Linked DNA regions of Homo sapiens. The protein of the gene in region 7 purifies or fractionates together with the protein of the main gene of each other region. This does not show direct contact. Each region holds a gene or a part of one and is shown on either strand. Other genes may lie near its edges.

The links.
Region 1: the proteins of SCN4A (region 7) and CSPG5 purify together in Homo sapiens (affinity purification with mass spectrometry; one large-scale study listed by BioGRID and IntAct). This does not show direct contact.
Region 2: the proteins of SCN4A (region 7) and SMO purify together in Homo sapiens (affinity purification with mass spectrometry; one large-scale study listed by BioGRID and IntAct). This does not show direct contact.
Region 3: the proteins of SCN4A (region 7) and TMEM62 purify together in Homo sapiens (affinity purification with mass spectrometry; one large-scale study listed by BioGRID and IntAct). This does not show direct contact.
Region 4: the proteins of SCN4A (region 7) and SEC62 purify together in Homo sapiens (affinity purification with mass spectrometry; one large-scale study listed by BioGRID and IntAct). This does not show direct contact.
Region 5: the proteins of SCN4A (region 7) and DPY19L4 purify together in Homo sapiens (affinity purification with mass spectrometry; one large-scale study listed by BioGRID and IntAct). This does not show direct contact.
Region 6: the proteins of SCN4A (region 7) and SIDT2 purify together in Homo sapiens (affinity purification with mass spectrometry; one large-scale study listed by BioGRID and IntAct). This does not show direct contact.

Annotation. Positions count from the first base shown.
Region 1 is NC_000003.12:47,572,366-47,575,865, forward strand, and holds part of CSPG5 (chondroitin sulfate proteoglycan 5 isoform 1 precursor), read right to left. Parts: intron 510-3,500; coding exon 321-509; intron 1-320. UniProt on the Homo sapiens protein: May function as a growth and differentiation factor involved in neuritogenesis. May induce ERBB3 activation.
Region 2 is NC_000007.14:129,202,133-129,205,632, reverse strand, and holds part of SMO (protein smoothened precursor), read right to left. Parts: intron 3,011-3,500; exon of another isoform or gene 2,897-3,010; intron 2,250-2,896; coding exon 2,044-2,249; intron 431-2,043; coding exon 221-430; intron 24-220; coding exon 1-23. UniProt on the Homo sapiens protein: G protein-coupled receptor which associates with the patched protein (PTCH) to transduce hedgehog protein signaling. Binding of sonic hedgehog (SHH) to its receptor patched prevents inhibition of smoothened (SMO) by patched.
Region 3 is NC_000015.10:43,132,096-43,136,385, forward strand, and holds the start of TMEM62 (transmembrane protein 62), read left to right. Parts: upstream 1-1,490; 5' UTR 1,491-1,707; coding exon 1,708-1,887; exon of another isoform or gene 1,888-1,919; intron 1,920-2,161; coding exon 2,162-2,273; intron 2,274-3,416; coding exon 3,417-3,554; intron 3,555-4,290.
Region 4 is NC_000003.12:169,976,807-169,980,306, forward strand, and holds part of SEC62 (translocation protein SEC62), read left to right. Parts: intron 1-139; coding exon 140-245; intron 246-3,500. UniProt on the Homo sapiens protein: Mediates post-translational transport of precursor polypeptides across endoplasmic reticulum (ER). Proposed to act as a targeting receptor for small presecretory proteins containing short and apolar signal peptides.
Region 5 is NC_000008.11:94,736,900-94,740,399, forward strand, and holds part of DPY19L4 (probable C-mannosyltransferase DPY19L4), read left to right. Parts: intron 1-1,469; coding exon 1,470-1,560; intron 1,561-2,513; coding exon 2,514-2,635; intron 2,636-2,745; coding exon 2,746-2,891; intron 2,892-3,500. UniProt on the Homo sapiens protein: Probable C-mannosyltransferase that mediates C-mannosylation of tryptophan residues on target proteins.
Region 6 is NC_000011.10:117,188,743-117,192,242, forward strand, and holds part of SIDT2 (SID1 transmembrane family member 2 precursor), read left to right. Parts: coding exon 1-84; intron 85-426; coding exon 427-500; intron 501-592; coding exon 593-659; intron 660-1,209; coding exon 1,210-1,283; intron 1,284-1,423; coding exon 1,424-1,547; intron 1,548-1,880; coding exon 1,881-1,998; intron 1,999-3,135; coding exon 3,136-3,272; intron 3,273-3,500.
Region 7 is NC_000017.11:63,955,919-63,959,418, reverse strand, and holds part of SCN4A (sodium channel protein type 4 subunit alpha), read left to right. Parts: coding exon 1-154; intron 155-1,900; coding exon 1,901-2,257; intron 2,258-3,500. UniProt on the Homo sapiens protein: Pore-forming subunit of Nav1.4, a voltage-gated sodium (Nav) channel that directly mediates the depolarizing phase of action potentials in excitable membranes.

The DNA.
Region 1 (3,500 bases), on a different chromosome or scaffold from region 7:
TGGGGACTAGAGGAGGAGTAGCTACATGCTGGCTGCCTTTTTCACAGCAGGCTCTCAGATGCCTAGTGCAGGGTTTTGGGAAAGCTGCTGGACAGTGGCAGTGTGCCACAGGGGCTTCACCTCTGCTGCAGCTCCAGCACATTTTGTGTAGGAACAGATGAGCCTGAGTGAATTTTTAGCACAGACAAAACAGCTGGGAATGGAGCACAGGTGCCAGAAACCCTCACGACAAAGTCCCTGGATCAGTTGGAGGGGTGCAGCAGCGTCGGGGGGCCTCCCACACCCTGACCTGGGTGGATGGGTGAGTGACACAGACTCACTTGGTCCTACGCAGCTTGGTATTCTCCGTCTTGAGCAGGTAGAGCTTCTTGGCAAAGAACACCGTCATCATGAAGAGCAGGAGCAGGACGAGGGCAGCCGAGCCCACGGCCACGCACATCACCTGGAAGTCGGTGATGATGGACTCGCAGCGCATCCCCTTGTGCCAGATGTAGTCCTGCGTGTTGCACCTGCAGCAGCGACATTGAGAAACCGTGGCGATGGAGCAGGCAGCCACGGCCACAGTAAGGGCCTGGGCCCTGACCCCAACACCTATCTCCACAGCCTGTTCCGAAGGCCATCTAGAGGAACTGCAATGCTCCGAATCTGCACAGACCTCAGAGCTGGTGTGATCGCCCCTGCCTTTACAACCATTCTATGAAGTGGGCCAGGGAGCTCTGAGGTCTGTGATATAAATGAGGTAACCGAGGTGTAGAGAAACTGAGTGAACTGGTCAAAGTTCTCTGACTGCTAAGTGACCAAGGAGGGAAGGGAATCCTGGTCTTCTGCTCTGCAGCCTCAATGAAGACACCTACAGGATCCTCTCAGGCCTCTCCCTGCCCTGGGCTCTGGGTGAAAGAAAGATGAAAAACAAGAGGAATAAGAGCTACAGCTACAAAGTCCCAGGACCTGCCCTGCACATGCAAACCTATCTTGCTGCTTTGCAGTCCCACCTAGTTCACGTGGCTGAGAAGACACCTAAAAATAAGGAAGTGACAGACAAGGACAAATAGAAAGATGGATGTAGATTCTTCTATCTCTGCAGCCCCCCCAAGTTCTGCCCCTAAAGCTCCCTATCCTAGTACTATGAGAACTGTCATGCAAGCACAGTGAGAATCAACCCTCTGGGTGGGTTTTAGCCTTTTTGTTGAGTGACTTTCTCCTGCCCTTGGGGACATTCCCAGGCTCCAACTCTTCCAATGACATTGCTGTTTCCATGGGAACCAGGCTGCTTCAAAGAGGAAAGATGTGGAAGGATACAGAGGCAGGCAAAGGAGGGAGGACATGAACCTCAGGGTGAATGACAGACAAGAGAAAGGGCTCCAGAAACGGGGAAATTATGCACCAGAAAACTGGCTACTCCACATCTAGAATAGGGTGGGGAGACATGGCTAGCAAGAAATTCTTCATTTTCCAACTGAGCCTCTGCCGTCATGGGGAGGCTATCTGTTTGAGGTTGCCAGGGAATGCAGACCCCTGTAAGTGGGGCCTCTACCCCGGTGTTCTAGAGAAGTTCCGCCACAGCTCTGCTCATTTCCCTGCAGTGGGTCAGGGTGACAGAGACAAAGGCACACTGCAGTCTGCAACCAACGGCTCAGCAGTCTCCTGTGAGTGGAATGCAAAAATAGTTTTCAAGCCGTGGCCAGGCCTGGGTGTACACAGCCAGGGGAGGAATCTGGTAGGGAGGCCCGAATGTGATCCTGGGATGGAAGCTAAGCAAGGGGAACTGGAGTGGACACGTGGAGAAGCCCTTGTGAGGCAGTGAGAGGCTGGTAGACCCATGCTGGCAGAGCCATGTAGCTTACTGAGGAAGACAATCTTATTCTTCCACTTGGGAATTTTCTGAGAGTTCCAGGAGATTCTGGGGACTTTTACAGCTCTCTAGAGGCAGCAAGGGCTCCAAATTTCATACTATTATGGGGAGTTCACTTTGAAGGTGAAAATTCCAGGCCTCCAATAGGATGAAAGATGATGATTTTGCAGAGAGGTTGCACAGCCCCCAGGCTGAAATCATCACTATAGTCCCCCAAACTGAATTTTGAGGAGCAAAATCACAGGGTTTCCTCATATTTCTGGTAGCCCTTAATCAACTGGCAAGTTAGTTTATTGCCATATTTTCTTTTTAAAAATAAAATTGCTACAATTTCTTAATCATAGTACCTCCTTCTGGCAATGGCTGGACCACTCCAAGAACTGTGTGGTCACATCCTATGAGTGACCCTAATGTCATGACCATTTATAATAAAGAACTTCGGCTGGGCGCGGTGGCTCACGCCTGTAATCCCACCACTTTGGGAGGCCAAGGAGGGCAGATCATGAGGTCAGGAGATTGAAACCATCCTGGCTAACACAGTGAAATCCCGTCTTTACTAAAAATACAAAAAATTAGCTGGGCGTGGTGGCGGGCGCCTGCAGTCCCAGCTACTCCGGAGGCTGAGGCAGGAGAATGGCATGAACCTGGGAGGCGGAGCTTATAGTGAGTCGAGATTGCACCACTGCACTCCAGCCTGGACGACAGAGTGAGACTCCGTCTCTAAAAACAACAACAACAAAAAAAAGAACTTCATAGAAAGAAACTGGAACTTAAGTTACAACGCCAAGGACAAAATACTCATTGCTTTCTACATGTTATTCTCTGATATACTACATCAAGACCTAAGGAACTTGAATTCATCATATACTTGCAGAACGAACAAGAACAAGAAGGATGGAGAATGACACTTGAAAAAGAGATACCCTGGCCGGGCGTGGTGGCTCACGCCTGTAATCCCAGCACTTTGAGAGGCTGAGGTGGGCGGATCACTTGAGGTCAGGAGTTTGAGACCAGCCTGGCCAATATGGTGAAACCCCATCTCTACTAAAAATAAAAAGAGACACACAGATGACAGAAATGCTCCATCTAGGACTAATGGAGACAACCCTCAAAGGAGTCTGAGGGCTCTCCTCCATTTCTACAGCCTGTAAAGGATGGAGACAAGCAAACCACCTGATCACCCCACCCTGGGATTCTTCCGGAATCAGGCTGCAAGCTCTCCAGCAAGTTAAATACCTCACTGTGAGGACAGTTCCTAAGAGTGAGGTGAGTAGGGTAATTACTGATGAGCTACAGACAATGCCCTTAGGAAAACTAAACTCTGAGTCTTTAAAAGGATTATGGATTTGATATCCCAAGGTAGACAAACATCAAAGTAGAAAGAAAAAAGCCACCTCCCAAAGTCAAGAAACACCCGCACATCTGCAATGCGAAGACTCTCAGCTTGATTTTATCTGTGTGAGTGGCTGCATTTTGGGGTCTGTTTCCAAGAAGGTCCTCCCTTTTGAGTTTGCGTGCCTACATTCCTTCCAGGGAACTGGCCCCTCCTCCCGCCGAGCACAAGGCATGGAGCGGTGTTCAACAGCTGTCTTTATCCCACAGAGTAGGTTTATGGGCCTACCCCTCTCACCAGTACCACCAGAACCCT
Region 2 (3,500 bases), on a different chromosome or scaffold from region 7:
CGCCAGTCAGCCACGAATGTGGCCTAGAAGAGAGAAGTGGGCCATTCTGTGAGGTTAGGGTTATTCTGCTGACACAGACACCCTTAACTGAGCCCCAGACCCTTCTGATCATGACCCTTCCCTGGGGACCCCCACCAAGACCTCTTTGCCCCCCTTCCCTCTGGCTCTCTTCCCACGTTCCAGGCTGAGGGCCCCCCGGGCCTGCCCTCCCGCGGCTGACCAGGGTGAAGAGCGTGCAGAGGCCCGTGACGGCCCCGAAGGCCGCGATGTAGCTGTGCATGTCCTGGTGCTCAGCCTCTGTGAAGAGCGGGTTCTGGCACTGGATGCCGCAGCCCTCCACGTCCTCGTACCAGCTCTTGGGGTTGTCTGTCCGAACCAAGGGCACTTCGCACTGGCCTGAACTGTTGAACTTGATGTTCTGCACCTCATTCTGGCACCAGGGATGGGAAAAGACGGTGTCAAGGCAGCTCAGGGACGAGCCTCTTGTTTAGGGAAAGGTATCTAGGTAGCATGGCAGGGTGGCTGGAGATACACTTCCAGGACCTGAATCCCAGGGCTGGCTTGGCAAATTATTTGGCCTCTCTGTACCTCAGTTTCCCCACTTCTTTCTTTCTTTTTTTCTTTCTTTTTTTAGACAGTCTCGCTCTGTCGCCCAGGCTGGAGTGCAGTGGCGTGATCTCAGCTCACTGCAACCTCTGCCTCCCGGGCAATTCTCCTGCCTCAGACTCCCGAGTAGCTGGGACTACAGGCGCCCACCACCACACCCGGCTAAATTTTGTATTTTAGACGGGGTTTCACCAGGTTGGCCAGGCTGGTCTTGAACTCCTGACCTCATGATCCACCCACCTCGGCCTCCCAAAGTGCTGGGATTACAGGCGTGAGCCACTGCGCCCGGCCAGTTTCCCCATTTCTAAGATGGTAGTACTTACCTTATGGTATGGTTTAAGGGTTAAATGAATAAACATATATTATATATATAGAAAGAGAGAGACAGAGTCTGGCTCTGTCGCCCAGGCTGCAGTGCAATGGCACAATCTTGGCTCACTGCAACCTCCACCTCCCGGGTTCAAGCGATTCTACTGCCTCAGCCTCCCAAGTAGCTGAGAATACAGGTGCCCACCACCATGTCTGGCTAATTTTTTGTATTTTTAGTAGAGACGGAGTTTCACCATGTTGGTCAGGCTGGTCTTGAACTTCTGACCTCATCAAGTGATCCACCCGCCTCAGCCTTCCAAAGTGGTGGGGATAACAGGCATGAGCCACTGTGTCTGGCCAGCCTATTTATTTATTTATTTATTTTGAGACAGAGTCTCACTCTGTAGCCCAGGCTGGAGTTCAGTGGCACGATCTCAGCTCACTGCAACTTCCACCTCCCGGGTTCAAGCGATTCTCGTGTCTCAGCCTCCCGAGTAGCTGGGACTACAGGCGCACACCATGACATCAGGCTTATGTTTGTATTTTTAGTAGAGACAGGGTTTTGCCACGTTGGCCAGGCTGGTCTGGAACTCCTGACTTCAGGTGATCTGCCCACCTCGACCTCCCAAAGTGCTGGGATTACAGGCATGAGCTTATTATAATGGCATTTGGCATATAGTAAACAGGACTAATTAGTATTATTACCATCATTATTACTGTTATTATTTTCATTGAAGACCTCTCCTGCACCACCCAGAACTAGCTCACGTCCCCTGTCTTGGTGGCTCTAGCTGTTTCACACGCTCGCGCCTTAACTCCCAACATACATGAGAAACTTCCTGATAGGCTCCTGTCATCCGTGATGCCCGTAACACCACAACACCCAACAGCCAGTGCTCAAAACATTTTGCTGAACATGTGATCATTGATAAATAAATAGAGAATCCCTAATAGACGGATCCAGCCAGTGAGCTGCAGTTTGAGTTTGTGTCCTGTTGACCCCATGGCTGTAGGCTCAGGGTCTCCAGGAGACAAAGCTCTGGGCTCCCCTGCTCCCCACTGGACCCTGCCCTATACCCGGTCCTGCCCAACCCAGAGAGCCTGGACCTTGTCTCACAGAGCACTCACCGTGCAGCCTTCAGGGAAGCGGTCAGGAGTGCAGCGCAGGAAGTCAGGCCAGCCCCGCTCCCTCTCCACGATGGCACAGGGGCCTCGGGTGGCCTGGCAGAGGGTACGGCTGGGCAGCTCCACCCGGTCATTCTCACACTTGGGCATGTATACGGCACACAGCAGGGGCTGGATCACTGCCCAGCAGCGGGGGGCATTCCGGAGGCCTGGGGGTGGCAACAGCATTGCAGTGAAGGCCCCTCCTCACTCTGACCCACAGACGCAGCTTCACCCCTGTCCTCCAGGCCTTTGCCACACTGCAGCCCATCACTGGTCAGACCTGGCAGGTACAGTGTTTCTCAACAGTGCATCTGGGCAGGACAGTTCTTTATACCATAGGACTGTCCCATGCATTGCAGACACTAGACTCTGCCAACTCAATGCCAGTAGAACCCAGAAGTGATTGTGACAAACAAAAATGCCCCAGCCCTCTACTCTAGGGACGGTGACTAGAAGGGAGCCTGGAGAGGAACCTCTGGGCTGCTGGGAATGTTTTACTTCTTGATCTGGTACTGGTTACATGGGATGTTGGGAATATTCTATCTCCTGATCTGATACTGGTTACATGAGTGTATTCACCTTGTGGAAACCAAGCTCATGATCTGTGCGCTATTCTGTATGCTTACTATCATTTAAGTTTTAAGAAAATAACTGCCACTTCCAGATGCCCTGCTAGGGAGTGGTAATGCCTCTGGTAGAGCTCCCCGGGGTGGATTTACCTTTTCAGGGGTGCACCCAACTCTCACGGGGCCCATTTGCTAGAGCCAGGAGATGTTTCCCTTTGCCCAGACCCCAGAACCCTTGTTCCTCTTACCAAGCGGAGTGAGAGAGAAGAGATGGGGGCTTAAGAAGAGGTAGTCAGAGGAGCCAGGCACTCCAAAGCCAGAGGAGGAAGCAGGAAGTCAGATGGAGAGGAACAGAAGAGGCTCTGTCCAGTGCGGAGAGGGGAAAAATGTTGTCAGCAAGACAGAAACAGGCGGCAATCTCCCAGCACCCGTCCCCAGCCTAGTCCTCCGCCCTGCCCATCACAGAAGCCCTTCCTGAATCAACCCTGCTTCAGCAATATCTATTTCCCAAGCAAGAAGTTGCATTAGGAGAGAATATGAGGATGTGAGAGCCAACATGGGTGCCGGTCACATTTCCAGGCTGGGGGTGGTAGAGACAGGTAACCACTCTTTTCGGGGGAAGGCAACATAGTAGAGAGGTAAGGGGCATGTGCATGGCAACTGCCCAGCCTGGGTCCAAATCTTGGCTCCACTCTTTCCTGGCTGTATGATCTTGGGCAAAGTACTTTATCTTTAGCCTCAGTTGCCTCATCTGTAAAATGGGGATGATAGATTTACCTCATGGAACTGCTGTGAAAAGTGATATAATGCTTTAAATGCCCTTGGCACAGTACCTGTCATGTAGTAAGCGCT
Region 3 (4,290 bases), on a different chromosome or scaffold from region 7:
AAAAAAAGTTTAAAAATCCCTGTTTTGTCCTGAAATTTTAGTCTGTTCTGGATAAATAGGATTTTCTGAGAGAGATATGAGAAGTTGTAGCTCTGATGTCTAGCTGTAGTCTCCTGGGTCTGCTGATTGCATTATTTTAATTTGCTTTTCTGGGAAAGCAGTTTTGCTAAAAGCTGTACAGACTTTCCTTTGTACCTAGTAGTACTTTATATAGTATAGCTTTGGGCTATGTAGCATTTTAAGACTCAATTAATAAAAAATTAATCTGTTGCTGACTCTGTTAATTCCTATTTCCACATGTATTTCCTTGAAGAATTCAGGATACGACTTCTTGTGTATGACAGTTTTCCTTCACACACTATTTTTGTGGGTGTGTATATATCTGATTTGGGGAGAATTTAAAAAACACATAGCTTTTTAATTTGTTTGAAACAGACCTTTTGCCTGTTACATTTTGTGCTCTTAACCAATTAAAGAAGCCAATGACATGTTAGTTTTATATTGTGTTTTCCACTAGTATATCCCTGTTGATTTGTTTGTGCCTTTTATTAACTGCCATTTTCTAAAATTTTTTTCAATAAAGGGAAGACGTGAAAAAAATTACTCAGAACAGCAATATATAATAAACAATTAAAAAATCAACAATAAGGGAGTTGTTAGATAAATTAAGGTAGGGCTGAATCTAATTCTCCTGGGTCTGGCCCATAGGAAGTATTTAATACTTATTAAATGAATGGTATACTACCGTGTTGCAATATTATTTACTCAGGTGCATGTGAAATCAGTTTAAGGGAAAAATAACTTTCACAAAACATAGGAATTACATCTATAGAAAACCTATGCTGCCGGGCGCGGTGGCTCAGCCTGTAGTCCCAGCACTTTGGGAGGCGGAGGCGGGAGGATCGCTTGAACCTAGGAGTTCCGAGGCCAGCCCGGGCAACACAGACAGATCCCAGTCTCTACAAAAACTATATTTAAAAAATTAGCTGGGCGTGGTGGTGCGAGCCTGTAATTCCAGCTACTTAAGGTCAGGGAGGTCGAGGCTGCAGTGAGCCATGATCGCGCCACTGCATTCCTGCCTGGGGGATAGAGACCCTGTCTGAGAAGTGAAGGAAAGGGGAATGGTAGAGGGAAGGGGAAGAGAAAGAAAAGAAAACCTATGGAGGTACGTTAATAATCAGAAGGGGCCAGAGGAAGCCACCTGACACATTTGTGAGACAATTTAAAAGGCGTTCTCATACATTCTCACTTTGATACAACAACCCTGCAAAGTGCGCACGGAAGGTGTTATTAACTCCGTTTTACAGGTAAGGAGATCGACCCACTGAGGTCAGGAGTGACTGACCAAGGCGGAGCCAGGACTCTAGCCCCCGCCTCCCGGCCACTGGTCCCGGTCTCCTTCCCCGCCACCACTCGGCCACCGTCATTGGTGTTCAGAGTTTCGGTTCTCTTTTCTGTGATCGTATTACTTATGCAAAACGAGCCCAGTCACTTGCGCGGCCAGAGAGGGGCAGGTGCTGGGCGGCGGCTGACGGGCGCAGCACCCTAGGCCCAGTGTCTGGCTCCAGCCCCGCATCCGGCGCCGGCCCCGCATCCAGCTCTGGCCCTGCGACAATAGAGTCCGGAAGTGCAGGCAAAGCGGCTCCCGGGAGCGCCGCGCGGTCCTGCGCGGGATCAGCGAGGGCCGCGCCCCGGCGGGCGGGCGGCATGGCTGCAGTGCTGGCTCTCAGGGTGGTCGCGGGGTTGGCGGCCGCAGCGCTGGTGGCCATGCTCTTGGAGCACTACGGCCTGGCGGGCCAGCCCTCGCCGCTGCCGCGCCCCGCGCCCCCCAGGAGGCCGCACCCTGCGCCAGGGCCCGGAGACAGCAACATCTTCTGGGGCCTGCAGGTGACGCGGCGGGAAGCCGGGCCGGGAGGCAGGTGCAGATCGGGCACCGTGCGGTGGGACCCTTGCGGGTGTTGGGCCCCACGCTCCAGGCTGGGGACCTCAGTCAGATTGTAACTCGAGGCTCTGTCTAGTGCTGGCCCTGTCCTTACCTGGGGGGTTCGTTATGCATTGCCTCTTTGCCTTTTCCTTCTGCCCGAGAGAGCCGCTGAGCCGCCCCTCCCCATGCTGCCTCTTCCTGGCTCAGATCTCTCTGTTCAATACCTGTTTTCGGCAGATATCCGACATTCACCTGAGCAGGTTTCGAGATCCAGGCAGAGCGGTAGACTTAGAGAAATTCTGTTCTGAAACTATTGACATCATTCAACCAGCTCTCGTCCTAGCAACAGGTAGGGAGGCTTGCCGTGCTGTGGTGGTGGTCTGTGGTCCGCATGGTAGAACTCTAGCCAGGGCTGTGGCTTTTCATTTTGGGGACGTTGGGAGCAGTATAGCCACAGCCCCAGGTGAGCTCTGTGAGGTGGAAGAGATTGGACATTCTAACCCCTTTGCCTATGGATAACTGAATGAGTCAAGATCCAGGCAAAATGATTTGACGTAGCAAGGTTTTGTCAAAGCAGTAGAAGCAAGGCTCCTGGTTCTCATGTCAGTCTGTTGTCTGATATATTTGTATCTGGTTTTTGTTCTTGTTGTTGTTACAGTTCTGGTTGTGAGAATTAGGGAAAAGCCTGTAACCACGAATCAGAAGTTCTCTTCTTTTGCTAACTTTTCTATTTTCTTTACATTATTAATCTTATATTTTCAGTTGTTTGAGGCTTCCGGTGACCCAGGGCACTTTTTCTTCATCCTTTGATAGTTTTATGACTTAAGTTTTCTAGACTCTTCAAACACTTTATTTGCTTTCAAACTGTAATGGGGAGAAGAAGCTAAAGGAGCATCTATCTATCTTGCTTACTGGGGAATTCATCACTCATCCACCTTATTGAAGCATCTCTGCTGACATGAAAGGGTATCAGTTCTGATTTAATGGATGAGCCTCCATAAAAAGTTTTCTGTTTAGTTCTCTATAAATTTTGGTATTTTGTTGTCCAATTCCACCTGCCACATTGCTTCTTGCTGTAAAAATAATACTTGGTCAAATCACATATTCTGATTTTGTGGTTTGGAAAATATGGTTGCCATAGATATTAGGCAGCCACTCAGAGTACTGGAATTTCTTATAAATCATTTTCATTTTATCAGAGTCTATTGATGCATTTTGTACTGTTCTCTTTAAAGATTTTTTTAACAACCCATTTCGAATATCACAGGAGATTGAACAGGCATTTGCTAACCTATAAGAAACAAAGTCCTTGCTGAGAAAATCTTGTTAGTTTAGATGGCTCGATTTGGACATTGGTGGTCTCGTGAGCAGTTATGCTTATACACGTTGAGTGCTTTAAGTATCCTTGTTCCTTCAGTGTACATATCTAAAAAAAATGGAACCCCCAGTAGTTTATTTTGCATTGTGATTCAATTCTTGTGTAAACCTACAGGAGACCTGACAGATGCCAAAACAAAGGAACAGTTGGGATCCAGGCAGCATGAGGTAGAATGGCAAACCTACCAGGGTATTCTGAAGAAGACAAGAGTCATGGAAAAAACCAAGTGGCTGGATATCAAAGGAAATCATGGTAAGAGCCAAGAGCCAGATACAATAAAGACAAGAGTTTTTTTCCCCCTTCAGGAACCTAGATTTTCCAACTTAGATTGTAAAATTATAAAGTGGGACATTTACATATACTAAAGGTCACATCTCTGAAATACAACTATATAATGTGGTTTTAAAACTTCAAATGTCATTGTTAGCCTTTGAGATGACAATTGGTATGGTCCTTTTTTTGTGACATATGCTGCTTCTTTTTTTATTATTATTATTATACTTTAAGTTCTGGGATACATGTGCAGAATGTGCAGGTTTGTTACATAGGTATATATGTGCCATGGTGGTTTGCTGCACCCATCAACCTGTCATCTACATTAGGTATTTCTCCTAATGCTATCCCTCCCCCTGCCCCCATCCCCCAGTCCTTTTTTCTGTACATGGAAAAAATATGAGTTTTAGCAAAACTCATGCAGACAGATGTTTTAATAAATATACATTTTGCTAAGTGAAAGAAGGCAAACCCGTAAGTCTGCATACTGTATGATTTCATTTATATGACATTCAGGAAAGGCAAAACAATAGACAGAGAACAGATTGTAGTTACCAGAGGATAGGGATTGGGAGAGAGATTAACTGCAAACAAGCATCATGGAGAATTTTTGGTGGTGATGGAACTAGTCTGTATTTTGATTGTGGTGGTAGACTTCAGGTTCACTATATATTTGTCAAAATCCATAGAACTGTAAGTCACAAAGGATGAATTT
Region 4 (3,500 bases), on a different chromosome or scaffold from region 7:
CATGTTAGATTTAGTTTTCTGTTGAGTTTGGTTTTCTTTTTTGTTGCCAGAGTGTTGAAATTTTACTTTATAAAATATTATTTAGATAGACATAAATCCCCATGTATGCTAAATTTAAAATAATGAATTTCTTCTTTAGCTTCAAAAGCAGTGGACTGTCTTTTGGATTCAAAGTGGGCAAAGGCCAAGAAAGGAGAGGAAGCTTTATTTACAACCAGGGAGTCTGTGGTTGACTACTGCAACAGGTACTGTTTATTTCTTAGTGAAGAATAACATAATAATTTTAAATTTTCTTCATAGTCCTGAAGCTCCTTACATCATTAAATGTAGTGATACTACAACATAACTCAAATACTGTTTTCACATGTAACCTGATTTCTTTGGTACCTCTGGAAATGTGTTTGGTATTAGACTATTATACTTTTAACTGTATATAATTTTTATTTATGTTCTATTTTATATATTTGTGAGCCCTACTGAAGGGTCAGCAACAAAAGTCATATACCAGTGCCTACAGTAGAAAAGAAAGTTTTTTCTTTTGTAGAGCAAATTGGTTGAGGAGTCTTTTTTTCAAAACTTTTGCAGGAATTCCTATTAGCTGTGTTACCGCTACTTTTTTAGTGCCTGCACCCTGAGCCATAAGCCTCATACCCTTTCCTATTTGGTTCAGTGTTTGCTAATGTAGTATTTCTTCTAAAATCAAGGAAGCTGCAACATCTACCTTATCTTTTTCTGAGAATTTCAAGATGAAATACAGCTAATTCAGTAATATACATATATTTTTCATAATAGATACTTTTTCTGTTTTGAAAAAACTTTTGATGTTAAGTGGTTTACCTAAAAGACAAAATCACCTTCCTTTTGGAAGGAAGTATGCTGGTTTTTCTTTCCATTTCTTTTCTTTTTTTTCTTGGTTTACTTAATACTAAGCATTTTCTTAATATATGTTAACTAAATTTTGTTTTCATAACACTAAAGCTTATCTTTTGGGATTTTAGATTATTTTATGTGTACTAATATTTTATTTAATGGCACCTAAAGTATCAGCCACATAAGAACCCTCTTAAAAACCACTATTTCACAACCTGGTTTCTTAAGCTGTCAAGTTAAAGAATTATTGAATATTTCTTAAAATTCTTAGTTGCCAAAGACTAGAGGTTACTAACAGACCTTTTAGAAACAGTAGGTTTCGGCCAGGCACAGTGGCTCATGCCCGTAATCCCAGCACTTTGGGAGGCCGAGGCAGGTGGATCACAAGGTCAGGAGATCGAGACCATTCTGGCTAACAAGGTGAAACCCCATCTCTACTAAAAATACAAAAAATTAGCCAGGTGTGGTGGCGGGCACCTATAGTCCCAGCTACTCGGGAGGCTGAGGCAGGAGAATGGCGTGAACCCGGGAGGCGGAGCTTGCAGTGAGCCGAGGTTGCGCCACTGCACTCCAGCCTGGGCGACAGAGTGAGACATTGTTGAGACAAGGATGAGCTAACACTCATGCAGTTGATATTTGCTTGTCTTTTGTAGCAACTTGTCTAGTTAGAATTAGCTCCAGCAAGCATATATCCAGGGCAACTTGAATCTGCTCGTGGGGAAAAAATAAAAAGGTGAATAGAATTAGCTCCACGGTACAAACTTCCAGGCTGGGCACAGTGGTTCACGCCTGTAATCCTGACACTTTGGGAGACCAAGGCAGGGAGATCACATGAGGCCAGGAGTTCAAGACCAGCCTGGCCAACATAGCGAAACCCCATCTCTACTAAAAATACAAAAATTAGCCAGGCGTGGTGGCATGCACCTGTAGTCCCAGCAACTTGGGTGACTGAGACATGAAAATAGCTTCAGCCCGGGAGGTGGAGGTTGCAGTGAGCCGAGATCGCACCACTGCACTCCAACCTGGGTGACAGAGCAAGACTCTGTCTTAAAAACAAACCAAAAAGTACAAACTTCCTTACCTGCCACAAAACTGATGTATTTTTTACATGTTGTGTAAAAATTAAGAGATGCTACAAATGCAGAAACTGGGGCACAGAGAACTTAAGTACTTTATCTAAGGCTACACAGCTAGCAAGTGGCAGATCTAGGGTTCTACATCTAGCAGCCTGTCTCCACAGTCTGTGTTCTTAACTACCGCTCTATACTGTCTCCTCCAACAAAATGACGATGCATTTAATGGAGCTATTAGATCTGTAAGCCCAAATCTCTGAGTAGAGCAGCCAGTATGAATCCACATTTTTTGGCTTTTTAGGAGCCTTGGTACCTTGTTATTTGAAAAGCTCAAAAGACCTGAGTACAGAGAGTGTCCAAAGACACTCGATTTTCATTGTATACGCTCTTCCCACTGATGTCAGATTGTTTGAGTCCTTTCTGCACTAAAATAAATGAGAATAGCATAACTTTAAGGTCTCCAGAGCCACTTCTAATATAACCGTAGAGTCTTATTGGCCAGTTCTCATGAGTTGCTGCCCAATAGCAGACAAAATCACAAAGGGTCTCTTGACCAGTTTCTTTTTTTCTTTTTTTGGCATCCTCCAATACTGTCAGTTTTTCTGAGGCAGCTAAGTGGCATGAGGGAGTCTGAGGAAAAACAAAATAGGAAAATGTAGGATGATAAAACAATCTTTTCTAATGTGATCTATACCTTTTTATGGCCTATATCATGAATGAACTCATACATACTAGGTTAAGTCTCCACAAGACTTTGTATCACTGACCCCCAATCCAGTTATGTCGTCCTCAGTCTTGTGCACATGCCACACTCATTTTTTCTTCTAGTCTTTTTCCTATCATAACTTGCCACTTTCCCTAAACGGTTCTGTTTCCTCTGTCCCACCTGCCTCTCAAAATCACAAACAAATCCCTCAAGTCCTTCCTCTACCGAATGTACTCTTCCCCAGGCCCTCCAGCCTTCATCAGCCTTTGTATCTAAAGTTCTACTGAGTTTATCAAGTTAGTACCTCCCAGTTTGGCCCTTAACTATTTTAGAATTGCTACATATGTGTGAGTTTTTTTAAAATCTCCTGCCAGCTAAATCTGAAAACAATTGTAAGACTGTTTTATACTTTATTGTAACTCCATAGCAATTACCACAGTGTGAGCACTTCATAAAAACTCACCTTTGCCACATTGGTGGAAGTCCCCAACATGTCTGGCATTTAATAAATGTTTGTTAAATCTGAAAAAAAAATGGAAGTGAAGGAAAAAAATACAGAAGTAATTTTTTAAATGTTTTAGAAGCTGTTTTAAAACCACTTACTCAACAAATAGTCTAGGCTCCAGGAATACAATAATAACTATGACTTGGTCCCTACATCAAAACATATTCTGATCTGTTAGGGAAGATTTATAACTAATCACAATGCAGTGTGTTGAATAAGGAAGAGAGAGATGGTGAAACTATGAAGAATGACATCACACAGAAAATGTTTTAAGTAAATTTTGAAACATAAATAGGTGATTACCCAACAAACAAGAGAAGAAAGGAAATTCATTCCAAGCAAAGGG
Region 5 (3,500 bases), on a different chromosome or scaffold from region 7:
TCACTATTCTTGCTATTCTTAGGGCATGTCTTGTGGTTTTCCTTCTAGATTTTCCGGATATATGTTATATATAACAAGTGATGACTTGTGATTTACAATTCATTTTAAACCTTAATGTTTCATTAAAATTATTGCCAGATTACTAAAAAGTTAAGTTCCTCATTAATGGGGCCACTAGTAATTAAAGAAAATTCAAACATGTCTTTGAATAAAAAGGATAAATATTATTAATATGTTAATTTGGAAGGTGAGGAGGGAGACAGAAGATTGAGGCTGAAATTTATTTTATTGTTATTATTTTTTGAGACAGAATCTCACTCCATGTCCCAAGGCTGCAGTGCAGTGGTGTGATCTCGCCTCACTGCAACCTGTGCCGCCTGGGTTCAAGCGATTCTCCCACCTCCCGAGTAGCTGGGATTACAGACACACACCACCAGGCCTAATTTTTCTATTTTTAGTAGAGACAGGGTTTCACCATGTTGGCCAGGCTGGTCTCAAACTCCTGACCTTAAGTGATCCACCCACTTCGGCCTCCGAAAGTGCTGGGATTACAGGCGTGAGCCAACACGCTGGGCCAGAGGCTGAAATTTAAAACCAAGTAAGGGCCAGGCGGTGACTCAACGCCTGTAATCCCAACACTTTAGGAGGCCGAGGTGGGCGGATCACGAGGTCAGGAGATTGAGACCATCCTGGCTAACACGGTGAAACCCCGTCTCTACTAAAAACACAAAAAATTAGCCGGGCGTGGTGGCGGGTGCCTGTAGTCCCAGCTACTTGGGAGGCTGAGGCAGGTGAATGGCGTGAACCCAAGAGGCGGAGGTTGCAGTGAGCAGAGATGGCGCCACTGCACTCTAGCCTGGGCAACAGAGCAAGACTCTGTTTCAAACAAAACAAAACAAAACAAAACAAAAAACTTCAAATAATCCAGCCTGGGCAACATTGTGAGACCCCCTTCTTTACAAAAAAATAAAACAAAACAAAACAAAAATGCTGGCCATGTGCCTGTAGTCCTAGCTACTGGGTAGCTGAGGTGGGAGGATCATTTGAGGTTTCAGTGAGCCATGATTGTGCCTCTGCACACCAGCCTGGGTAACAGAGAGAGACTCTGTCTCTTAAAAACAAAAAACTTAAATTTAAGTCTGGGCGTGGTGGCTTACGCCTGTAATCCCAGCACTTTGGGAGGCTGAGGTGGGTGGATCATGAGGTCAGGAGATCGAAACCATCCTGACTAACACGGTGAAACCCCATCTCTACTAAAAATACAAAAAAATAGCCGGGCGTGGTGGCAGGCGCCTGTAGTCCCAGCTACTCGGGAGGCTGAGGCAGGAGAAATGGCATGAACCTACGAGGCGGAGGTTGCAGTGAGCCGAGATCGCGCCACTGCACTCCAGCCTGGGCGACAGAGCGAGACTCTGTCTCAAAAAAAAAAAAAAAATTAAATTTTAAATAATAATTTCATTTTCTTTTAGGAGCTTGAACGGGAAATCACGTTTCAGGGTGACAGTGCCATTTATTACTCCTATTATAAAGATATGTTAAAGGCACCTTCATTTGAAAGAGGTATGATAATCACAGTTATATTTTTAATAACAGTATTTTCCTTTTTCTTTTCTTTTCTTTTTTTTTTTTTTCCGAGACGGAGTCTTGCTCTGTCACCCAGGCTGGAGTGCAGTGGTGCGATCTTGGCTCACTGTAACCTCTGCCTCCCGGTTCAGGCAATTCTCCTGCCTCAGCCTCCCTAGTAGCTGGGATTAAAGGCATGCACCACCATGCCCGGCTAATTTTTGTATACTTAGTAGAGACGGGGTTTCACCATGTTGGCCAGGCTGGTCTCGAACTCTTGACCTCATGATCTGCCCGCCTCAGCCTCCCAAAGTGCTGGGATTACAGGTGTGAACCACTGCGCCCGGCTGTAATATCAATATTTTTCTTAAATAAAACTTTGTTCTTCTATTTTAGAACCTTTCCTCCTCCTTTTATTTTTACTTTACATGTAGTAATTGTGCATATTTATGGGGAGTGATATTTTGATATTATACACAATGTATAATGATCAAATCAGGGTAGTTAGTATATCCATCACATTGGACATATATCACTTCCTTGTGTTATGAATATCCCAAATCAACTCTCAGCTTTTTGAAAATATACACTAAATTGTTGTTAACCATATTCATTCTATAGTACTACAGAATACTAGAAGTTATTTTTCCTATCTAGCTGTAATTTTGTATCCATTAACCAGTCTCTCCCTATCCTCCCCTCCCCTCTACTCTTCCCAGCCTCTGATAACTTCTATTCTGCTATATTGGGACCTTTCAATGTGGGGATTTGTCTCAGGATATAGATATTTCTCTTTATTGTGCTAAATTTTTAAAAAATGGAAAATGCAGCATGGAGTATTCTATTTGGGATCTTTCTTGATAACAATATTAAATATTTAAGGACTAATGACATGTTTAATTACTGTGAAGCAGAATAAATAATCTGGAGAAAAATCTTTCTGTCTTTAGGTGTTTACGAACTGACACACAATAACAAAACTGTATCTCTGAAGACTATAAATGCAGTGCAGCAAATGTCTCTGTATCCGGAACTTATTGCTAGCATTTTATATCAAGCCACTGGTAGCAATGTATGTATTTTTCGTTGGACCCTAATATTTATTTTCTCATGTATTCATGAATCCTCAAATTATTTAATGCCATCCTATTGTCTTGTTCTCTTTCTGTTTTTTCCACATAGGAGATTATTGAGCCAGTGTATTTCTATATTGGCATTGTTTTTGGATTGCAAGGAATATATGTTACTGCTTTATTTGTTACAAGTTGGCTTATGAGTGGAACATGGCTAGCAGGAATGCTTACTGTTGCGTGGTTCGTTATTAACAGGTAAGAAAGCTGTTTTAATTGATTTTTAAAAACTTTTTGTGGCTGTAGTAGTCAGAGTTCTGAAAATGCCTCCCCTCCCCAACAGTCCTCACTCTAATCCTCAGAACCTATGAATATGATGAGATGCCATTCCCATGATTATGATACTTTGTATAGCACATTAGACAGATTGGAAAGATTACCCTGTGGGCCTGGTCTAATCACGTGAGCCCTTAAAACCAAAGTGCTTTCTCTAGCCTGTGTAGAAAGAGAGATCAGAGGATTTTCTGCACCACTGCAGGCATGAAGCAAGGAGGAAATGAATTCTGCTAGTAGCCAATGATATTGTAAGAGGACTACAAGCCCCTGATGAAAACTGTAGCTCTGGCCGATGCCTTGATTTTAGCTTAGGGATACTGAGCAGAGCATCCAGCCATACTCTGCTGGCCTTTGTGAGATAATAAATTTGTGTTGTTTTATGCCACTATATGCAAAAATTGAGACATAATATGCCAGCATATTCTTTTGGATCTTTTTCTTTTTTTATTCATCCTAATCCTTAGAATCTGAATTTTGGGTCTTCTAGGTGAATGTGTGTGTGTATGCATCTGTGTATTTGTATATGTATTT
Region 6 (3,500 bases), on a different chromosome or scaffold from region 7:
GTGGACTCCATGAGCTCTGTGGAGGAGGATGACTACGACACATTGACCGACATCGATTCCGACAAGAATGTCATTCGCACCAAGGTCTGACCCGTGGGCCTGGCCTGGTCAGGCGTTTCCTGAGAAAGGGACATTCTGCGTTCCCGCCCCAGCATGTTCCCACTGACGTGGCATTTAGGGAAGCAGAAGGAAGGGGCTCAGCTGGGGCAGGGCAGATGCCGGGGAAACTAACCTGACCTCCAACCCCTTCCGGCCTGATTGGCCAAACCCTCTTGGTCTAAGCGGCCGCAGCAGTGGGATGTCCTTGAACCCTGCCCCCCTGAATTCGGCCCTGTGTGAGGGAGGCCCCTCTTGTCCACCTCTAACCTGGGGGAGGGGGCTTCTCCCAAGTAGCAGTAAGTGGGGCTGATTCCAGCTTCTCCCCAGCAATACCTCTATGTGGCTGACCTGGCACGGAAGGACAAGCGTGTTCTGCGGAAAAAGTACCAGATCTACTTCTGGTGAGTGGGCTGAGTGTCTGGGGCTCTGCTGTTGGTGGGTGTGTGGCAGCCTTGGGTGCCACCCACCTCACTGCCGCCCTCCTGCTCCGCAGGAACATTGCCACCATTGCTGTCTTCTATGCCCTTCCTGTGGTGCAGCTGGTGATCACCTACCAGACGGTGAGAGGGCAGGGCAGGTTCACCTTTCCGACAGCCTAGGACACCGCCCCAAAGTGCAGAGCCTCCCAGCCTGGGGCCCTGGTGTTCCATCACAGGACCTGGGTTCAGATCCCAGCTCTGCCTTCCCAGCCGAGTGACCCAGGGCAAATCACATAACCCCCCCAACCCTGAGTGTCAGTTTCTTCATCTGCAAAATGGGAGCAGCCCGCACTAAAGATAGCCCCTCCCTGGTTTCTTGTGCGGATTATGAAACCAAAGTCCTGGGGCTTTGTAAGCATCAGTTTCCCTTCCCTTTTCTCTGTCCCGTGGGGCAAGAACTTCCATCACGGTCATGCCTCAGGGTTTTCAGCCACGCCTAATGAGAGGGGACAGCGACTGTGCTGCATGGCATCCATGTTCTCAGAAGGAACACGTGCCTGCGGTGCTGTGTATTCCCACCTGCTAGCTGTGGTGGCACTTGCTGTTTTTTGCCAAAGGGGCCCGGATGGCGGGGCGTGGGCTGAGTTGGGCGTGACGACAGACCCACTCCCTGTCCCTGCTCCTGCTACAGGTGGTGAATGTCACAGGGAATCAGGACATCTGCTACTACAACTTCCTCTGCGCCCACCCACTGGGCAATCTCAGGTGGGGGTCATGCTGGGAGGCCCCTTGTCCAGGCCAAGGGTGAAATGGGGCAGGGCCTGGGGCTTTGCAATGCCCACGTGGGCTAGGGAAGAGGCCTGGGTGTGAGTCCCAAGCAGTCTGCCTTGTGTTGCCCCTTCTAGCGCCTTCAACAACATCCTCAGCAACCTGGGGTACATCCTGCTGGGGCTGCTTTTCCTGCTCATCATCCTGCAACGGGAGATCAACCACAACCGGGCCCTGCTGCGCAATGACCTCTGTGCCCTGGTAAGGGAGCACCTGCCTGCCTGCCGCAGCCTCAGCTCCAGCACAGACCTCAAGCCTTGGCTCCAGGACACCCTTTTGGGCAGGCCTGGCCCTGCCTTCCCCAGCTCTCCCCTCCCCAGTTCTGTCTGGCCCACCCTATCCAGCCCAGCCTGCCCCACCCTGCCCTGCCCTCCCTTGCCAGCCTGCCCAGGCCAGCCCACCCCTGCACACCCACACTCGACACATACCCCACCCCTTTTCCTCTTCCACTCCTCTTAGGGTCCCTCTTTTGGGTCCCTTCTTCCCTTCCTGCCTCACTTCCTCCCTCCCTTCCCTTCTCTCTCTCCCCAACAGGAATGTGGGATCCCCAAACACTTTGGGCTTTTCTACGCCATGGGCACAGCCCTGATGATGGAGGGGCTGCTCAGTGCTTGCTATCATGTGTGCCCCAACTATACCAATTTCCAGTTTGGTGAGTGGGGCGTCCTTCTTTTCTGGCTCAACCTACAGCAGGGACCTGCCTGAGTCCTTCACTATCCCCAAGTCACCCACAGGGATCGCTAAGACACCCCTGTAGGAAACTCCAAGGCTGGCGTGCCTGGGTGTGCACACATCCTAGCCTATGGAACATGGGCACCTAGATGCTGCTTCATTCATCTGTCAAGCTATTCCTATGTAAAGGCATGTGCCGCAGTGAAGAAAACAGTATAATTAAGAAGGGGTCCCTGGCCGGGTGCAGTGGCTCACGCCTGTAATCCCAGCACTTTGGGAGGCCGAGGCAGATGGATCACGAGGTCAGGAGCTCCAGACCATCCTGGCTAACATGGTGAAACCCCGTCTCTACTAAAAATACAAAAAATTAGCCGGGCACAGTGGCAGGCGCCTGTAGTCCCAGCTGCTCGGGAGGCTGAGGCAGGAGAATGGCATGAATCCGGGAGGCAGAGTTTGCAATGAGCCAAGATCACGCCCTGCGCTCTAGCCTGGGCAACAGAGCGAGACTCCGTCTCAAAAAAAAAAAAAAGAAGGGGGCCCTGGCTGGGCACTGTGGCTCATGCCTGTAATCCTAGCACTTTGGGAGGCTGAGGCGGGGGGATCGCCCAAGGTGGGGAGTTTGAGATCAGCCGGGCCAACATGGTGAAACCCCATCTCTACTAAAAATGCAAAGATTAGCTGGGTGTGGTGGTGCATGCCTGTAATCTCAGCTACTCAGGGGGCTGAGGCAGGAGAATTGCTTGAGCCCAGGAAGCGGAGGTTGCAGTGAGCCGAGATCCCACCATTGCACGCCAGCCTGGGCGACAGAGTGAGACTCCGTCTCCAAAAAAATAAAAGGGAGTCCCTGATCTCAGGGTGCTCACAGACTAAGACACAGACCAAGTTGTCCCTGTTTTCAGGAGATGTCAGACTCTGGGTGACAGCCAGTGGGGTGGCAGTGTGGTGTGGCAGGTACAACTAAGGAACTGAAGTTCAAGTGCCACCCTGCCACCAGCTCACACCATGGCCGTGGTGGGGCACCAGGGCTCTCTCTTCCTCTGGGATTGTTGGGGCCAGGAGTTCTCTGCTGGGGCTTGGTGGCCATTTCTGCAGCTCCCTTCCGTGTCCCTCATCCTAGACACATCGTTCATGTACATGATCGCCGGACTCTGCATGCTGAAGCTCTACCAGAAGCGGCACCCGGACATCAACGCCAGCGCCTACAGTGCCTACGCCTGCCTGGCCATTGTCATCTTCTTCTCTGTGCTGGGCGTGGTGAGGGCCTGACCTGCTCTGCTCAGCCTGTATGATAGGAAAGGTGCACGTGCGTTCAGACACGTAGTGCACACCCTCCGCCACCTCCTGCATGAGAGATTCCTGCTCCTTCCCTGAGATGCCTTCCTGGGCCCCTCTCAGAGTCCCAGCCTGGCTGAGCAGCCAGCCCCAGGAAGGGTGGGCCATCCGAGCCACTTCCCTCTCCACCCTCACCGCTGCCCTTGGTGG
Region 7 (3,500 bases):
AGCAGAGATGGTTCTGAAGCTGATTGCCATGGACCCCTACGAGTATTTCCAGCAGGGTTGGAATATCTTCGACAGCATCATCGTCACCCTCAGCCTGGTAGAGCTAGGCCTGGCCAACGTACAGGGACTGTCTGTGCTACGCTCCTTCCGTCTGGTACACAAAAGCCCCAGGGCCAGGGGCTGGGATGGGGGTGGGGTGAGGAGACTAAGGAGGGTGGGCACAGGGATGGGAGGAGAAACCCCAGGAAGCTAGAGGGCTGAAAACGAGGCCTCCTCTGCCTTGTGCACACCTGTTACCTCTCAGAACCTTTCTTACCTGTAAAACAGAGAAAAGGAGAGCCCTGTCTTCTTTCATAGGGCTGCTGGGGGGACCCAAGTGACAGAGGCCAACACTGGGTTTGATTCCTTAATGACCTTGAGCAGCAGTGGAGCAGGAACTCCAGCCCCATACTGCAGACCTGAAAGCCGGGGCTCTGGAAGTTCATTAGGAGTAGGATTGGGACCTCTGAATTTCTGTCTTTTCACCACCCCATAAGGAGCACTATTATTCTTTTTAAAACTTTATCAGCTGGACGCGGTGGCTCACGCCTGTAATCCCAACACTTTGGGAGGCCAAGGCGCGTGGATCACCTGAGGTCAGGAGTTCAAGACCAGCCTGGCCAACATGGTGAAACTCCGTCTCTACGAAAAACACAAAAATTAGCTGGGCTTGGTGGCGCACGCCTGTAATCCCAGCTACTTGGGAGGCTGAGGCAGGAGAATCACTTGAACCCGGAAGGCTGAGGTTGCAGTGAGCCGAGATCGCACCACTGCACTCCAGCCTGGGTAACAGATTGAGACTCTGTCTCAAAAAAAACAACAACAACAAACTTTATCAAGGGATCTTTTCATGCATGCACAAAAGTATAGAGAAAGTATAATGAACCTCCACGTACCTATCACCCAGCTTCAACAACTATCAACATTCTACAATTCCTGTTGCATCTGTCCCCCAATTTTTATTGTGAAAGCAAATCCCAACATATAATTTCACTTGTAAATACTTTAGTCTGTATTTTTTTTTTTAGACAGGGTTTCTCTGTCACCCAGGCTGGAGTGCAGTGGTACGATCACTGCTCACTGCAGCCTTGACCTCCCCAGACTCAGGTGATTCTCCCACCTCAGCCTCCTGCATAGGTGGGACCACCATGCCTAGCTAATTTTTGTAATTTTTGTAGGTCAGGGTTTCGCCATGTTGCCCAGGCTGGTCTCCAACTCCTAGGCTCAAGTGATGCACCTTCTTCGGCCTCCCAAAGTGCTGGGATTACAGGTGTGAGCCAACTGCTCCCAGCCATAGTCTGTATCTTTAACAGATAATGACGAATGACATTTTTTCTCTTTTCTTTTCTTTTTCTTTTTCTTTTTTTTTTTTTTTTTAGTGGAGTTTTGTTCTGTAGCCCAGGCTGGAGTGCAGTGGTGCAATCTCTGCTCACTACAAGCTCCACCTCCCTGGTTGAAGCGATTCTCCTTCCTAAGCCTCCTGAGTAACTGAGATTACAGGCACTCGCCACCATGCCCGACTAATTTTTTGTATTTTTAGTAGAGACAGGATTTTACCATGTCAGCCAAGCTGGTTTCCAGCTCCTGAGCTTAAGTGATCCACCCGCCTCGGCTTCCCAAAGTGCTGGGATTACAGGCGTGAGCCACCGCGCCTGGCCTGGACTTGTTTTCTTTTTAACACATGAAGGGCCTGAGGTGGTAGAATGAGTGTTCCCATTTAGCAGAAGGGCACACTGAGGACTCAGATGGTGTGGGGGGCTGGAGATTCAAGCTACTCGACACTGTTCTTTCTCCTAAGGCTGGGGCTGCCTTGGGTGGTGGTCCCTGGGCCTCATTCACCCTTGCCCTCCCTGCTTGGCAGCTGCGGGTCTTCAAGCTGGCCAAGTCGTGGCCAACGCTGAACATGCTCATCAAGATCATTGGCAATTCAGTGGGGGCGCTGGGTAACCTGACGCTGGTGCTGGCTATCATCGTGTTCATCTTCGCCGTGGTGGGCATGCAGCTGTTTGGCAAGAGCTACAAGGAGTGCGTGTGCAAGATTGCCTTGGACTGCAACCTGCCGCGCTGGCACATGCATGATTTCTTCCACTCCTTCCTCATCGTCTTCCGCATCCTGTGCGGGGAGTGGATCGAGACCATGTGGGACTGCATGGAGGTGGCCGGCCAAGCCATGTGCCTCACCGTCTTCCTCATGGTCATGGTCATCGGCAATCTTGTGGTGAGTGAGGCTGGCTGGGTGGCCCCTGCCCTCACCCGGGAAGCGTACAAGATGTACCTGATATTTGACTGTTTTCTATCTCCCCAACACATCCTCTCCAAAATGGCAATTTTATGTGGTTTAACCCCGTAGTTCTCAAATTTTAACCTGTGTAAGAATCACTTAGGAGTTACTTAAAACATAGATCCCCGGCCCCACCCCCAGAGTGTCTGATTCAGCAGCTCTGGGCCTAGGCCTGGGGACCTGCATTTCTGACAAGCTCCGAGGTGATGCTGATCAGTGGATGCTGATGGTGGTTCTGGGACCATGCTATGAGTAGCGCTGTTGGAACCTAGTGTTTTGAGTAAAGCAACATGATAATGAGTCAGACAGACCCACATTCCAGTCCCAGCTCCTTTGCCATCATCTGTGTGACCTTGAGCTAACTGCTGCTCTCTAGTCAAGCTGGGTTCTCTAACCCTCACATAGAAGAAAAACAACAGGGAGTTCATGAGGTCACTGCAAAGATGATGCCATAGTGTGTACAAAGGCACAGTTTTGTGGGGGAACCTGGGCCTCCTGGCCTTCTCCCACCCTCTTGACCTCCTCTGCTCCAGGGCCTATGGTCCAGGCGCCGAAAAAGAGAATCAGGCTGGATGTGGTGGCTCATGCCCATAGTCCCAGCACTTTAGGAGGCCAAGGCCAGGAGTTCAAGACCAGCCTGGGCAACATAGCAAGACACTCTTATCTCTACAAAAAATGGAAAAATGAAAAAAATTAGCTAGGCATGGTGGCACACACCAAACCCAGCTATTTGGGAGGCTGAGGCAGGAAGATGGTTTGAGCCGTGGACTTCAAAGCTGTAGTGAGCTGTGATCCTGCCACTGCACTCCAGCATGGGGGGGCAGAGCAAGACCCCATCTCTAGAAAACAAAAAAGAAACAGGTGCAGATATTGGGAAAATGCAGAGATGGCATAAACTGCATCTCTTCTGCCGCTTACTGTGGTTCAGGGCTTGGCATGAGGGGCTGGTGCAGAGGAAGGGGCCAGGAGGTGAGAGCCAGGGTATAGGGCCATGGTCCAGCTGGCCAGCATTTCTGCGGCTAGGGCCTCTGGAGGTGACCCTGACTTCTCCCCTTCTTGGGGTGGCAGTGGAGGTCACTCCTGCCAGAGCCCTGCAGTGCTGTGCCCAGCTGCCCCCTGCAGTGGCTGGTGCTGCCCTGGGCAACAGGGACTGGGAAGACGCCTGTCCCCATGTTCCCCA